2 separate regions of the Homo sapiens genome follow, and region 1 is linked to region 2. Evidence: fine-mapped expression QTL. Tissue or cell type: whole blood. Region 2 holds a variant in brackets; the other region holds the start of a gene. All regions are shown on one strand. Distances are from middle to middle.

What was found. PIP is the estimated chance that this variant, and not a neighbour inherited with it, causes the effect.
Region 1: it holds the start of EFCAB13, and the variant in region 2 is fine-mapped to the expression of EFCAB13 in whole blood (INTERVAL, PIP above 0.99).

Annotation. Positions count from the first base shown.
Region 1 is chr17:47,320,547-47,328,634 of GRCh38, reverse strand. It overlaps EFCAB13 (EF-hand calcium binding domain 13), which reads right to left and starts at 4,680. Exons shown (of 25, transcript NM_152347.5): 1 at 4,561-4,680; 2 at 4,112-4,181; 3 at 2,248-2,409; 4 at 252-366. The coding sequence starts at 281. EFCAB13-DT (EFCAB13 divergent transcript) reads left to right here and starts at 4,734. Exons shown (of 3, transcript NR_110880.1): 1 at 4,734-4,946. RefSeq lists enhancers at 3,892-4,071, 4,112-4,201 and a silencer at 4,542-4,951.
Region 2 is chr17:47,718,913-47,727,004 of GRCh38, reverse strand. No RefSeq gene overlaps it. Among named protein-coding and RNA genes, the nearest start is that of TBX21, 10 kb to the left of the region's middle. The variant T/C (reference allele first, on the strand shown) is at 4,063.

The DNA.
Region 1 (8,088 bases), 400 kb after region 2:
ATCCAGGTCCGTACCCCACCAAAATACTCTCATCATACACCACAGAAGATCTCTCAGTATTATATGGGTTGTAGGGATGGGAGTTCAATACATGTTCACTAAAATGACTCAAACATCATCTCAGTTACTTGGCCAGGTTCCTTATAACTATTACTCTATGAATTTGCTTACTGATTATGAATATGAGGTAATGTAAACTAATTTTAAAAAGAAGAAAGAAGAAATCTTTAGAAACTGTTTTAAATAAATACCTGGCAGAATAAATGTACTTTAGTTTCCATCTTTCTGTTTAGAGGTAAATTCTGTCCTTAAGGACTCCAGGCTTTGATGAACAAGTATGAATGAGCAATAGTACAAAAGGATTTCCTGCCAAAAAAAGAGAAAGAAGAAATCATACGCTTGTTTAGAACACTTAAGCAATTATATTTACCTACCTGAAGTTATCTCTTCAATGTAACACTGACTTGGGGTATGATACACAACATTTCACCAACACAGATATGTGGGCAAACACTAGAAAAAGCAGTTAGTAGACTATAAATCACAGATCATCCAATTCCTTAACTTTACCTTTTGTGGTTTGAGAAATCCAGTTTCAAATGGCATACAAAGCTGAGAAATCCAATTACATCTGTTTATTTAAATAAACCCTGAGAAGCAGAACTGCTAAGACAGTAGTAATCACTCATGTTACTGAATGCTTACTGTGTGCTAAATATCATGATAAAGACTTGAAGAGGTCAAGTTTCCCAAGATCACACAGCCAGCAAATAGTAGAGACAGAATTTGAATTCAGACAATTTAACTCCAAGCCTGTGGTCTTCAGTCCCATAGAACATTGCCTTTCAAAACAATGCTACTGCAAACAAAAGATGGTGTAGGCCGGGCGCAGTGGTTCACGTCTGTAATCCCAGCACTATGGGAGGCCGAGGTGGGCGGATCATGAGGTCAAGAGATTGAGACCATCCTGGTCAATATGGTGAAACCCCGTATCTACTAAAAATACAAATCAATTAGTTGGACGTGGTGGCATGCGCCTATAATCCCAGATACTCAGGAGGCTGAGGCAGAATCGCTTGAATCTGGGAGGCGGAGATTGCAGTGAGCCAAGATCGCACCACTGCACTCCAGCCTGGGATATACAGTGAGACTGTCTCAAAAATAAAAAAAAAGGCCAGGTATGGTGACTCACATCTGTAATCCCAGCACTTTGAGAGGCCAAGGCAGGTGGATCACGAGGTCAGGAGTTCAAGACCAGCCTGGCCAAGATGATGAAACCCCGTCTCTACTGAAAATACAAAAATTAGCCGAGTGTGGTGGCACGCACCTATAATCCCAGCTACTCAGGAGGCTGAGGCAAAGAACTGCTTGAACCCAGGAGGCAGAGGTTGCAGTGGGCCAAGACCACGCCACTGCACTCCAACCTGGGTGCAAGACTCTGTATCAAAAAAAACAAAACAAAAGAAAACAAAACAAAATAAAGAAAGAAAAGATGGTGTAGCCTCACTTCAAACTCAAGACTTTCACATTATGCAAATGTGATAACCAACACTTAGAAATTCCTCAAATTTTCATATTTTCAACTCACATCTGAGTTACATTTTATGAGCTATTTATCACAGTGCTAGCTATATTACATTATATTACATTGCTAGTTATAATCATCAGTCTTTTTCTTGTAAAGTTTAACTGCAAGTATTAATATTCTAATGAAGACAGAGTACTTAAAATCATTTTTATTTATTTCTGACATATGTTTATAGTCATTATTTTTCAATGTGATATGTCCAACATTCCTGGAATTCAAAATATGTTAAAATAAAATAGAACCACATTGAAAATACTCATCTCAGAAAATACTGGAAATCTATGCAGGTCTCCCCAGTAACCCATCCTACGTAATCTCTTCTAGATCTTCTCCAACCAGTTCAATATTTACCTCTAAACTACTGTGCATAGCACTTACTGCCTTCACTATTCTTGTCTTCACTATTTAACTGACATTAATCATTTGCCTTGTATTTGTATTTTTCATATGTATAGCTCCTATACCAACTATAGCCTAAATTTATAAAGAACTGGGACTGGTAACTTATCATTCTTAAAATTATTTCTCACAGTATCAAATACAATGGTATATATATAATGAAGGAAAGAGTAGAGGAAAGGAGGAATGGTATGGAGGGAGGGGAAAAGAGAGGGAGAGAGGGATGAATGAACAAATTCCCTTCCTACTAAGCTACTCACCAAGATTTCTTAAATCATCAAAGTGCTTAATTAAGCAGAGTTGACACGTTTTGAATAAATCTTGAAAGGAACAATTGTTCTGTAATTTATTGACGAGATTATCAAAAAGTTGGCAGGTCTTAATTTGCTGGATGAATCAGGTACCGCATAAGCCTCTCCAAACTTAAAAGAAAAAATTAACTTAGAAAGTCTATTCCCTGTAACTCTGACAATATAATTTTTCTCAACTATTTCAATCCTGTCTTCTATCGGTGAACTTGCAGGAACAAATCAAGAGAAATGGAGGGAGTCGTATCCCTTTTCTCCAGTCATCTATCCATTCACCTTTCTATCCATGAATTCAACGTATATGTCTGCATGCTTAGTGTGCACTAGGTTCTCTCCTAGGCTCTAGGGATATACCAATGAACAAAATATATATATGCTATATATATATATATATATATATATATATATATATATATTTTGTTTATATATATATAAAATCTGCCCTCATGAAGCTTATGTTCTAGTCAGGGAGTGAAATAATAAAATAGAAAAATAAAACATATTGTATGTTATCTGCAATAAGTACAAAAAAAAAAGTAAAGCAGGGAGGGGAATATGAAATGTAGTATAGGGGAAGAGATGCAGGGAACAGAATGGGTGGCCAAGGAAGACCTTACTGAGAGGGAGACTTTTGAGTACAGACCTGCAAGAACTGAAGTAGGGAGCTGATTAATATCTTAGGGAAGAGCATTTCAGCCAGAAAGAAAAGTAAGTACAAAAGCCCCGAGGCAAGAAGAATGTTCAAGGAATAGTGGGAAGGCCCCAGGAGGCTGAAGCAGGAGAGATCAGAGAGGCTAAGTGAAAGTGGCATATCATGGAGGACCCCTAGATGACAGTAAGAACTGTGGCTTGTACTCTGAAGGAGTGACAAGCATTGAAAGAGTTCTGAGGAGAAGGATTACATAATCTGAAGTTCTTTCTGAAAGGATCACTCTGGTTACTGTGAGGAGGGAAATCAGGTAGGTCTGGGTTCCTGAATGCCAAGTGAAGAAAGTACTTCAAGAGTGAGCAATCAGGCTGTGCATGGTGGCTTATGCAGGTAATCCCAACACTTTGATGCGGGGGTGGGGGTCTAAGCAGGAGGGCTGCTTAAGGCCAGGAGTTCAAGACCAGCCTGGGCAACAGTGAAACTCCCACCTCTACAGAATTTTTTTTTTAATCAGCTGGACATGGCGACCTTAGTCCCAGCTACTCCAAAGACTGAGCCAGGAGGATCTTTTGAGCCCAGGAGTTTGAAGCTGCAGTGGGCTATGATTGCACCACTGCACTCCAGCCTGGACGACAGAGACCTTGTCTCAAAAAAAAAAAAGGGGGGTGGGGTGGGCGGTTAAGATCAGTACTGAATGGTTCGCTAGGTTTCACAACACGGAGGACACTGACAAACTTGAAAGGAGCCATCTGGGTGGGGTGGTAAGGAGACAATGTCGTCAGAGTGAGTACAAGAGAGAACGGGGTAAAGAAATTGAACCCAGCCAGTAGGGTAGGCTCTTTCAAGGAGTTACGTTGTTAAGAGAAATAAGGCAGTAGCTGAGAGGAAAATGGGGCTGTGAGGCTTTAAGATGAGAAAAACAAAGGCGTCTTCACTGAAGCATGACTCTGTATGACATCCTTTCACAAAATACCTTCCTCTTTCCTCTCATGCCACATTTCCCTCACAAGCCGCCCGACTCGCTCGCTTTTCTCTCGCCAGAGGGACTGAAAACGTCATTAATACCAACTGCATACACAACTCCATTGCAGCTACTGCCATTCATGAACGTTCAAACTTTCGTCACCCTGTTTTCATATTTGTGTAACAAACGTCGAGTGAACGAACCTCCACCTCTTCCAAGAACCCACGCTGAGGAGGCTTCCCATAGACCCTGCTCTTACGAAGCCAACGACTTCTACAGGAAGAAAGAGGACCTGTAAGCTAGCGAGTGAACGACCCGCAAGATGGAAATGAGTGTGCTAATAGAGGTCTCCGCCTCCCGCTGAAGGAGCAGGGAAGTGACACCACCCCCGGGACCGCCAGCCTTCTACAACAACCACCATTTCTGAGGAACCACCTGATCAGTCTCAGTCACCCTTCAATCTGCCCCTTTGTCCCACTCAGTCCCCTCACTGTTCCTTTCTGGAACCTTCCTTCACCCAGCCCCACCACTGTTCTCCTTCCTCCCTCGCACCCTACTGCATTCTCCACCCTCCACCTCGAAGGCTCCCCTCCCAACTCCTCAGCGGGTCTCGCCTCCCCTCCCCACCTCTGTCCCCCAAGGGTCCCACTACCGGCCCGAGCTGCCCTCCCTTCCTCTCGGCTGGAGGCCCCCGCGCTCTCTGTGGTCAGCCCCTGCCGCCCCTCGGGCGGCGCTGCTCTAGCTCTGCAGCCTTCCCAGGATCCCGCGCCGCGCGGCCCCGCCCCCGCGGTCACCTGACCGAGCCCGACGCTCCGCCCACCGACCACCCCGAGCGGAGCGGGCCCAGGACCCTATCGGCTGTCGAGCCGGTGCTGCCGCGGCCACCGCCACCGCCCAGGGGCTCCGGGGCTGTGGGGAGCGGCTGAACTCAATACCGCCTCCGCGCTGACTGGAAGGCACTGCGGCCGCGCCTGCCTGCCCCACCTCGTAAGGGCCTGTGACCTCACGAGGCCAGCCGCCGGGCGCTGCATTCGAGCGGTGGGGCTCCTGTCCGTGCGCTTTCCTCCCGCAGCCCCGGCCGGGATTCCGCCCTCCGTCCTTGCCACCCGCTCGCCACTCTTCCCTAATCGCTGTTCATTCTCCGGTGCGCTGTCCCGCCATGGTCTGACCCCACTTCAATCTTACCTTCGGTCCGTCCTTTGAACACCCCGACCCCCGACCCCTTTCTTCCAAAACATTCCATCCTTCTTGGCTTCTGCTACTCAATAATGGACAGCAGCTCGAAGGCCATGTGTCCCACGGCTTTGCTGAAATTTGTCTCGGGTTGCCTTTAAGGAGACTGTCGTTTCCTTTTGAAAGAGATACTTTGGTTGGTTTGGTTTTCTTCTGTGTGTTTGTTTTTCCTATGTATTTATCGTATGCAGTTGGGCAAAATACTTAACGCTCCCTGAGTCTCGATTTTCTCATTCTTCCAGGGTTGTGGGAATTCAAAAATATATACGTAGTGCTCAATAAATGTTACAATATTTAATCCCTTCCGTGATACTACTGTGTTCATTTACATCTTAAACCTTGCTTTGTAGGCATTCTTTAATATTTTATTTAGATTTTTATTATTATTAAATATATGTACAAATCATAATTGTAAATATTTAATGGGGTACAATGTTATATTTTAATATATGTATACAATATGGAACGACTAAGTCAAGCTTAACATATCCATCACCTTGTTTAACGTTTTTTATGGTGAGACATTTGAAATTTACTCTTAGCAGTTTTGAGATATACGATATATTATTATTAGCTATAGTCACCACACTATGCAATAGATCTCAGAAACTTGCTGCTTTTGTCTGACTGAACCTTGTACCCTTTGAACAGCATCTCCCCATCCTGCATCTCCTACCCGCCCCGTCCCTTTCCAGCCTCTAACAACTATTCTACTGTCTACTTCTATGAGTTTGACTTTTTAAGATTCCACATATAAGTGAGATCATGTGGTATGTGTCTTTCTGTGCCTGGCTTTTTTCACTTAGTATGTCCTCCAAGTTGATTCATGTTGTCACAAATGACAGAAATTCTTTTTTAAGGCTGAATAGTATCCATTGCATATGTTGATTCATGTTGTCACAAATGACAGAAATTCTTTTTTAAGGCTGAATAGTATCCATTGCATATGTTTACTACATTTTCTTTATCCATTCATCCATCGATGGACACAGGTTGATTCCATTATCTCAGCGATTGTGCATAATGCTGAAATGAACATGGAAGTGCAAATAAGTCTTTGATATACTGATTTCAGTTACTCAATATATGCCCAGAAATAGCATCGCTGGATCATATGGTAGTTCTATTTTTAATTTTTTGGGAAACCTCCATATAGTTTTCCATAATGGCTGTAATAACACTAACAGTGTAAAAGGTTTCTCCACATCCTCAGCAACACATTTTTTTCATCATTTTGATAATAGCAATTCTTTTTTTTTTTTTTTTTTTTTTTTTTTGAGATTGAGTCACTCTGTTGCCCAGGCTGGAGTGCAGTGGCACAATCTCAAATCACTGCAACCTCCATTCCTGGGTTCAAGCAATCTTCCTGCCTCAGCCTCCCAAGTAGCTGGGATTACAAGCATGTGCCACCACACTTGGCTAATTTCTGTATTTTTAGTAGAGATGGCGTTTCACCATGTTGGCCAGGGTGGTCTCAAACGCCTGACCCTCAAGTAATCTGCCCACCTCAGCCTCCCAAAGTACTGAGATTACAGGTGTGAGCCACCACACCCAGCTTAATAGCCATGCTAACAGGTGTGAGGTGATATTGTAATCTTATTTTGCATTTCCCTAATAATAGTGATTTTTTTTTTCGCAAACCTGTTGGCCATTTGTATGTCTTCTTTTAAGAATGGCTGTGTCAGGCTGGGCATGGTGGCTCACACCCATAATCTCAGCACTTTGGGAGGCCAAGGTGGGAGGACCGCTTGAGCCCAAGAATCTGAGACCAGCCTGGGCAACATAGTGAAGCCTCATCTCTACAAAAAAAAATTTTTTTTAAAAGTCTATTCAGATTATTTGTCTATTTTTAAAATCAGGTTATTTGCTTTCTTGCTACTGAGTTTCTTGTATATCTTGGATATTAACCTCTTGTCAGATGTATAATTAGTAAATATTTTCTCCCATTCAGCAGGTTGTCTCTTCACTCTGTTAACTGTTTCCTTTGATGTGCAGAAGTTTTTAGTTTCATGTAATTCCATGTGTTTATTTTTTGTTTTCTCGCCTGTGTTCTTGAGGTCATGTCCAAAAAAATGCCCAGACCAATGTAGTGGAGCTTTCCGCCTGTTTTCTTCTAGTGGCTTTCTTCTATTTTTTCTTCTAGTAGCTTTCCCTCTATGTTTTCTTCTAGTAGTTCCAGTCTTACAGGTAAGTCTTTAATCCATTTTGACTTTTGTATACGGTGTGAGATAAGGGTCCAATTTCATTTTTCTACACATGGATATATGGTTTCCCAACAGTTTTTATCAAAGAGATTCCTTTCCCCATTGAGTGTTCTTGGCTCCTTATCAAAATTCAATTGTCTGTAAATTCTGGACTCTCTAGTATGTTCTATTGGCCAATGCATCTGTTTTTATGGAATACCATGCTGTTTTGATTACTGTAACTTTGTCGTTTATTTTAAAGTCAGGGACTGTGATGCCTTCAACTTTGTTTTTTTTTTGCTTTTTTTTTTTTGAGATGGATTCTGGCTCTGTCTCTCAGGCTGGAGTGCAGTGGCACAATCTCGGCTCACTGCAACCTCCACCTCCTGGGTTCAAGTGATTTTCCTGCCTTAGCCTCCCAAGTAGCTGGGACTAGAGGCGCGCACCACCACGCCTGGCTAATTTTTTTGTATTATTAGTAGAGACGGGGTTTTTTTTTTACCATGTTGGCCAGGCTGGTCTTGAACTCCTGATCTCATGATCTGCCCGCCTCGGCCTCCCAAAGTACTGGGATTACAGGCGTGAGCCACCACACCTGGCCCAACTTTGTTCTTTTTGCTCAAGATTGCTTTGGTTATTTGGGATCTTTTACGGTTCCATATGAATTTTAGGATTTTTTTATTTCCATGAAAAATAACTCTGGAATTTTGATAGGAATTGCATTGAATCTATAGATCACTTTGAGTAGCATGGGCATTTTAATT
Region 2 (8,092 bases):
GGCCACCCACCCCCTGGGGCCTCCTCTCTCCCCAAGGTTCTCTCTGGCTTCCTGGGATCTGTGGGCAGCCCTGTGTGCCCATGTCTCTCAGGGCTCCTGAGTGTCTGGGTTCCTCTGGTCTGATTCGGCCCCTCTCTGGGTCCCTGTGTTTTTGCCTGCGTCTTGTGTATCCTCTTTACGTCCACTCCTATCCCTGGGACCTGTGAGAGGTCTGCACGCTGGTCCTGAGTGTAGGTTCTGTGCCTCTGTCTGCGTCTCTGTGTCTGTCTGTTACCTGTGGGCCTCGGAACTTGCCTTGTCTCTGTAGCGTGTTTGTGTCTGTCTCTGCATCTTCATGTCACTGTCCGTGTCTCCAGGGCTATCCAGCGCTCCATGTATCTCCTGCATGTCTATCTGTCCATCTGGGACTAGGCCTCATCTGTGAGTTGGCTCTGGCCTTCCTGTGTCTGGCCTAGAGCTTTTTGCCTTGTCCACCTGGTTAATGTCTCAGGGTGCGGGTGAGACAGAGCAGACTTACGGACTTGGTTAGGGATGAATGAGAGAGGAAGAGGGAAAAGGGCATGGGTGGTATTGGGGGAAAGAGTCCCATTCCTAAATAGTGCCTGAAGCAAGCTGCCCAGCCCTGAAATGCCAGGGTGAAGCTCTGTGTGGCCAGGGGGCAAGGGAGAGAGGGCATGGCAGGGAACACACCTGCTCAGGGCTGGCAGCGGAGTTGCACAGAAACAGAAACAGACCTAGTTGGTATGTGGGGGTGGGCCCTCTACATACCAGAAACAGGACCCAGAAACAGGTGGAAAGACAAACATGGAACTCTAGGTTCTGATTCTGGCTCCGCCACTGGCGTAGATCACCTTGGGCTAGGCCCTTTCCCTCTGTGTGTCGCAGTTTTCTGCTCTGTAAAATGAGACAGCAAGGACCATCCCCTAGAATTCTGTTAGAGAGCCAGAGTGACAGAAGACATCCCTAAACCCAGGACAGAAGACTAGTTGCCCCTTTCTGTCCCTTAAGGAGGTATCCCAAAGACCCTTATAGTACCAACAGCCTCTGTGTCTGCGATTCAGCACCACTAGGGGCAGGACAGAGGGAAGAATGGAGGTTAGACAGCAGGAAGGACTTCCTGCCAAGCAGTGGGAGGGTGAGGAGGCCCCAGCTTCTCCCAGCAGTCCTCCAGGGCCCCTCTGTCAGGGCTAGGGGTGGAGGGGCAGGAGTGGGGGGCGTTCAGCAGCTGGGTAATTAGCCATCGCTCTCAGGCCCTGCGGGGAGGGGCTGGCTGGACTGAGAAACCAACGCAAAGTGACAGGGGTGGTTTTGACACGCGGTGGAGCTGACGGGCCCAGGGGGCTGGGGGTTTGGTTTGGGGGGGAAAAATCCCATCAAATGATTAAAAAATAGGTCAGAGGGAAGAAGCCACAGCCGGCACTGGGTCCGTGGTGAGAACGCCATGTCGCTTCCCCAGGGCTGTGGGCCAGAATGGGGTGGGGGAGCTGAGGAGTGTTTGCAGTGGGCGGGTGAGCTGGGAGTGGGGGCAAGAAGGCTGCAGGCCCAGCAGCTGGCCCTCTGCTTCCCTCAACCCTGTCTCACGGGGACATTTTACCTGCAGCCCACCTCCTGGCCTTCCTGTTGTACCATCTTCCTCCTCAAAGGCAGGATGCTGCAGCTCTTCTTCTGTTCCCCCTACCCCACCCACAACATATATACAAACTCCATTCCAGAAACACTGAGGCTACTGCCGCATGTGGAAGCCCTTCTTACCTTCTCACCTAGGGATCTCCTGCGCAAAGGCAGCTTGCTGACTTATCCTACATTTCTTGCCCATCTGAACTAATTCACCTGCCACTGCATCCCCTTTGCCATCTTGCCAACTCTGCAAGGGGTCCACTTTGGCCCTCCAGCTTGTTCTCAGATTGTCCTTTTCCCTCCTTCTCTCCTTTTCTGCCTTCCCAACTTCTGCCACAAATCATAACCACAGTAGCCTGGGAAAGGCAGAGAACAAGGAGGAGTGAGGTAATAGACTCAGGAGCCTGGGACAGGTTGGTGATCTCTAAGCACTTAGAGATCTAAGTAGGTGGAGGCTGATTGACTGTGTCTGCATTGTACAGCAATTTGAGATTCCTGGTAGTGTTCCCCCGATTTAGGCAGTTTACAGCCACCTCCCACCTCCTCTACTGAAGACTGGGACATTCTTTCAGCTGTCTTCCCACAACCCCTTAAATTGCAGCTTAATCCCATTTCCTTTTCTGAGGTCACTGAAACTCATGGAGAGATTAGCACCTGAAATTTGGGAGTAGAACGGAGGCCTGGGATCCACATGCCACAACTCCCTTCCTTATAAATCCTAGGCACAGGCAGAAATCAGGCAAGCAACCAGTGTGTGAAGCAGAGGGACAAACCAGGCATTAGGCTCCCAGCAGTGCTGTCTCCAGCTGAGTGGGCACCTGGGTCCCAGCCACTGGAATGGAGGACACCCAAGGCCATGTTGGCGCGAAAATGGATTGGCTAGGTCTGACCTTGAGTTTAACCCCACTTACCACCCCAGACACAGATCCGCTCTGACACACAAGTCTGAGATTTCCCCAGGAGCCTGCTGTTTGCTGCTTGCCCCGCTCAGTTACCCAGGAAGTGTCAGAAGGCGTCCAGCCTACCTCCTCCCACCAGGGCCATGGGCAGCTGGCTGGACCGAGCTGGGCACTGAGAAGGGCCCTGGACCCACGTCTCTGGCCACAGGGGACATAAAGGTGGCATGGCTGCCCAGCATTGCCCCCTCTCCTTGCTCACCGCCATTTCTTTCCAATCACTGGCATCAGAACCTGACATTCTGTGAGTTGGGAAAGGATGGTTATGGTCAGGCAAGTTCTTAGCAACTGGACCAGTAACTGGGAGTTGAGATACTGACCTCATCACCTTGCATTTCACACACATGCACACACTGAACTAGGGCCACCCAAGACCCAGGGCCCTGCAAATAGGCAGTGGGGCATGGGGCTCCCAGGTTCCCATGCATGACCCTGGATGTTGCCAAATCTAGCTTGTACTTTGTCTCAATCCTTGACTCCCAGTGAGTTTGGAAACTGTAAAAACCCCAGTTCTTCCTAATTAACCCCCTCCTCCTATCACCACTCTGGGTTGAGGGGTAAAGGATGAGATAAGAGAATATCCCGGCCAGGCATAGTGGCTCATGCCTGTAATCCTAGCACTTTGGGAGGCCGAAGTGGGCAGATCACTTGAGATCAGGAGTTCGAAACCAGCCTGACCAACATGGTGAAACCCCATCTCTACTAAAAATACAAAAAAACCTATCTGGTCGTGGTGGTAGGTGCCTGTAATCCCACCTACTAGGGAGGCTGAGGCAGGAGAATTGCTTGGACCCGGGAGGCGGAGGTTGCAGTGAGCTGAGGCTGTACCACTGCACTCCAGCCTGGGCAACAGAGAGAGACTGTCAAAAAAAAAAAAAAAAAGAACATCCCCAGGCAACTCGTACCCTTTATTTCCTTTCTTTCTTTCTCTCTCTCTCTCTTCTTTTTTTTTTTTTTTTTTTTGGTTAAGACTAGTCAATATACCTTTGATTTCATTAGACTTCACAATGGTGTGAAGGCAACTGGGTGGGAACCATTGTTCCCATTTTACAGACAAGGAAACTGAGATATAAAAAAGTTAAGTATCAGCCAGGCACAGTGGCTCATGTCTGTAATCCCAGCACTTTGGGAGGCCGAGGCGGGAGGATCACAGGGTCAGGAGATTGAGACCATCCTGGCCAACATGGTGAAACCCCGTCTCTACTAAAAATACAAAAATTACCTGGTGTGGTGGCACGCGCCTGTAGTCCCAGCTACTCAGGAGGCTGAGGCAGGAGAATTGCTTGAACGAGGGAGTTGGAGGTTGCAGTGATCTGGGATTGTGCCACTGCACTACAGCCTGGTGACAGAGCGAGACTCCATCTCAAAAAAAAAAAAGTTAAGTACCAGCTGGGCACAGTGGCTCATGCCTGTAATCCCAGCACTTTGGGAGGCTGAGATGGGTGTATCACTGGAGGTCAGGAGTTCGAGATCAGCCTGGCCAATATGG[T/C]GAAACTCCATCTCTACTAAAAACACAAAAATTAGCCGGGCGTGATGGCACATGCCTGTAATCCCAGATACTAAGAGGCTGAGACAGGATAATTGCTTGAACCCAGGAGGCAGAGGCTGCACTGAGCCGAGATCGTGCCATTGCTCTCCAGCCTGGGCAACAGACAGAGATTCTGTCTCAAAAAAAAAAAGAAAAGTTAAATACCTTGTCAAGATCACATGGCTGGTGACCTAATGAACACTTACTGTGCACTTTCCTGAGTGGAGCCTCCCACACCTGTGTGAAGAGGACACTATCGTTCCCATTTTGCAGATGAGAAGCTGGTGCTCAGAGAGGTGACACAATTTTCCCAGGCTCTCAGTTATTTTTATCCCCTGACCCTCTCTCCTTATAAGGTACCCAACCCAACCCGGGCTGAGTCCTTCTCCTTATTCCCTCTGGAGAAAGGCAAGATGGAAGGGCCCTCTATGTCACCCAGTGAGTGTTCCCCTATGTTTTGGGAAGTCATCCTGGTGTCCTAATTGACATTACCCTTCCCTCAACCCAGGCCTCTTCTCACCTCTCCTGGTGTCCTTTCTGTCTGATGACCCTGCAGAACCCGACCCCGTTACTCAGCAAATCCCATCCTGCTGATGGGGTAGGAGTGGGGAAGCAGGGCTGAGAGACCGAAAGGGGCAGGGACTAGCTTCGTCACACAGCAGCCACTGTGGCAGTGGAGGAAGATGAGTCCAGATGGGAAGGACCCAGGAGTCCTGGTTTCCAGGTGGAGTGAGAGGCAGGAGCCTTCCTCACTTCTCCAAACTCCCTGCCCCAGGCAACGGAGCCCACTGCCAGCCATCCAAGCTGTTAGGTGTTTCTGCCTGAGGAGGGAAGGGGCCTGGGCAGCTCCTAGAATGGGAAGAGAATGCCACTGGGCATGTGCCCTGCCAGGCAGTGCTTCCGTCTTTCTGCCCACGCCTAAGTTCATCACACCTTCTGCTCTGCCCTCCTGCTAATCGAACCTGCACTCTCCTCCCTCTTGCTTTTCACCTTGGGACACGTGAGCCAGTGGCCAAGAGTGAGGCAGCAGAGCCAAGTGGAGCCACCAGCTGCCTCATCCCCTCCATGCCAGCCAGACTGCCTGGGATTCTGGGGATCCCTGTATGCCCCTGCCGCAGCCTCAGCAGTAGCTCTGTCGACAGCTCTTAGGAGCTCCTGTTCCGGGCTGGAAGTGAGGAGGGGGCTTTCCTTGACAACAAACAGGGAAATGGGGGGCCCCACGCCCTGGCCCCAGGCTCTTCTTACGATCTAACCCCCTTGGGGCAGGCCCTTCTTCTCGAAGAAACCCAGGGAAGGCTTCCAAAAAAATCACCTGAGGCAGAGTCCCTTTCTTGCCCCGGGCTATAAGTTCTTCTTCTAGTCTAACCTTGATCCCTTGCAGAGGGGTGGAAGAGGGCAGAGATGAATTGCAGTTTCTTATAAACCTGGTGGCTTCTAGTTCCCCGACGACAATACAGCGGAGGAGCCCTGTGGTTCTGGCTCTGAGTCAGGCCCCATCGCCCGGGCGTCCCCAGTGCCATCTCCCTCCGCCCCTCCCCGGACTGGAAAATCAGGCTCATGCCTCTGCCGAGAGTCAGTGCTTCCCCTCCTTCCCCTCACCATCTCGCTTTCCCCTAAAGGGAGGTGTTTCCTCGAAGCAGGGAAAAGTCAAGGGGGCAGAGACCTCACCAGCCACCGGGAGGCGGCACTCGGTAGGCACGGGCACGGGGTGGGGGTGGGGCGACCCTGCCTTCCTCTCCCTTCCCCCTCCACCCCTCCAGCCCAGCTCCCCGGCCATGCTCTTCCAGACGGCTGCATGTGTGCGTGTGCACACACACTTAAAACACGTGTGTGGTTGGTATGTAGGGGGGCCCTCTAGCCCCCCGAGGGAGAGGGCGGGTGGAGGAGGGAAGGAAGGTGTCATGCCTCTGATGTGCCTATCAGTGACACAAACTTTTTCCACACGTATGTTCTTCACACGTTCTGGGTCTGCACGTGCTCATCATGCCTCCCGAGTCACATGTCTGATCGGCGTCCCGCTCCCCCGCTTGGCATTGATCCCTGGGTATTAAGCGGATTCCCTCCGCCTCCCTGTGAGGAGACCCGCCCACCTCGGGAGGGAAGGGTTGGGAATTCAGGAGTCTCTGAGGATACCGGCACCTCCCTCTCAGAAAACTGGCTCCTCCTCCCAGCAGAGGACCCTCGGCCTGGTGGGGGCAGGTCACAGACGTGCCATGCAGACCCTCAACCTTCCCATCTGTTTGAGGGCTCAAAGAGATATCAAAACTCCACCCCTAGACCCTGGATGTAGGTGGGAGAGTTTGGGGAGGGTCTCACCCCTTGGGGAAATTGAACCCAGCCGGGGAGTGGTTAGGAAGGTCTAGGTCAGCAATCAGAAGAACTCACGTGCACCTCGCTGTCAGGGGTGGGGGGAGTATGAGGGAGCCTAAACAGAAAGTGAGCAGGACAGAGGGAGAAAGAAAGAGAGGGAAAGAGAGAAACTGAGACCACGGGCAGTCACAAAGAGAGAGGAGGGCAGCGCTGGATGTGGGCAGGACCTTCTGGATAGCCGGGCAGTGTGGTGAGGGGGCCTGCGGGTCTACAAAGTGGTTGCCTTTTCCCTTTCTTCTCTAGCATCACAGATACGCGAAAGGTCAGTGCTGAGATAATCCAAGCCTTTCATCTCAAGGAGAAATCGAGTCAGAGCAAGACGGCTCAGAGCCACTAAAAGGGAATACAGAACCCTGTAGAGCCCACCCTCCTGCCTCCCAGGTTGTGAATTTTCTAACCCCATGGGGAATCAGGAGGACCCAGCACCTGGGATGTTCAGCACAGCAGGGGCAGTTCCAGCACTCTCTGCAGCTCAAGCAGCTGGGCTGCCTAGCTGGTGCCCAGGCCCTGCCAAGGGGACCCATGATACCCAGTCCCACTAGCAGCATCAGCAGCTTAGCTACCCCGAGAACTGGGACCAGAAGAGGCATGTTGAAAGGAGACTCTTTTGATGACCCAGGCGTCCTCCACCCCAACCCCTCCCCACTCCAAGCTGCTGGGTGTGCAAGCCCAGGGATACTGCTACCTCCACCTTGGTGACCCCCCAGCTCCTGAACCCACAGACATTGCGAGACACAGTGCGCGCAGGCCCTGCCACTTGGGAACTCAGACCCTAGCAAAAGCCTCCAAAGAAAACAATGTTCTGTCTTGGCCTCTGACTCCCCTGAAAATCTGGGGGGCTAATGGGAGGGACTTTTAACCCCCTTAGTCATCCTAGGAAGCCAAGCTGAATAGCAGTGACTGATAGTCACCCGACCACAAGCCAATTTTGCGGTTTCAGTTGTTTTCAGAAGGAGCAGCAAAGCAGTGGCAGGAGGCCCTGGGCAGAGGAGTGGGCTGACTCCCGGACCCCAGCCCCTGCCCAGAGCACTCTGCCCTAGCACGACCCAGCCCAAGGCTCAGCAAGACCCAGAACTGCACCCACTTTACAGATTCACACAGACAGGGTTTGCAACAACCAGAAACAGCCTTCTGTATCCCCTCCATGTACCCCTGGCTACTTTACTGGCAAGGCTGGCTGCTTTCTGCATCCACGATGAGCCCTTTTGCTTTGCTTTTCTCTTTTGTTTTCCTTCATTTCCCCTCCTTTCTTCTTTCATATCATTTCACTTCCTTTCTCTTTCCCTCTTTCATTTTTCTTTCCTTCCCTCTTTTCTTCCTTTCCTTTCTCTTCCTTCCTTATTCCCTCCTCTCTCTCTCCTTCTCTCTCTGCCCCTGCCCCATTACATGTGTGCCTGGCAGGAATAATCTAGGAGTCACAACCAAGAGCAGAGGCCCCTGAGTCCCCCAGGTATACTCCCGAACCACATCTGTCACCTCCCTCATGAGCTACAGGGAAAGAGATCAAGATTAGCTCTAAGGGAAGCTTCCTGCTGAGTGGAGTTTGGAGTAATCTCAGAAATATAGAATGCCAAAATGTCAGAGCCGTGATGGAAATTAAACCACCTAGTCCACTGAGGAA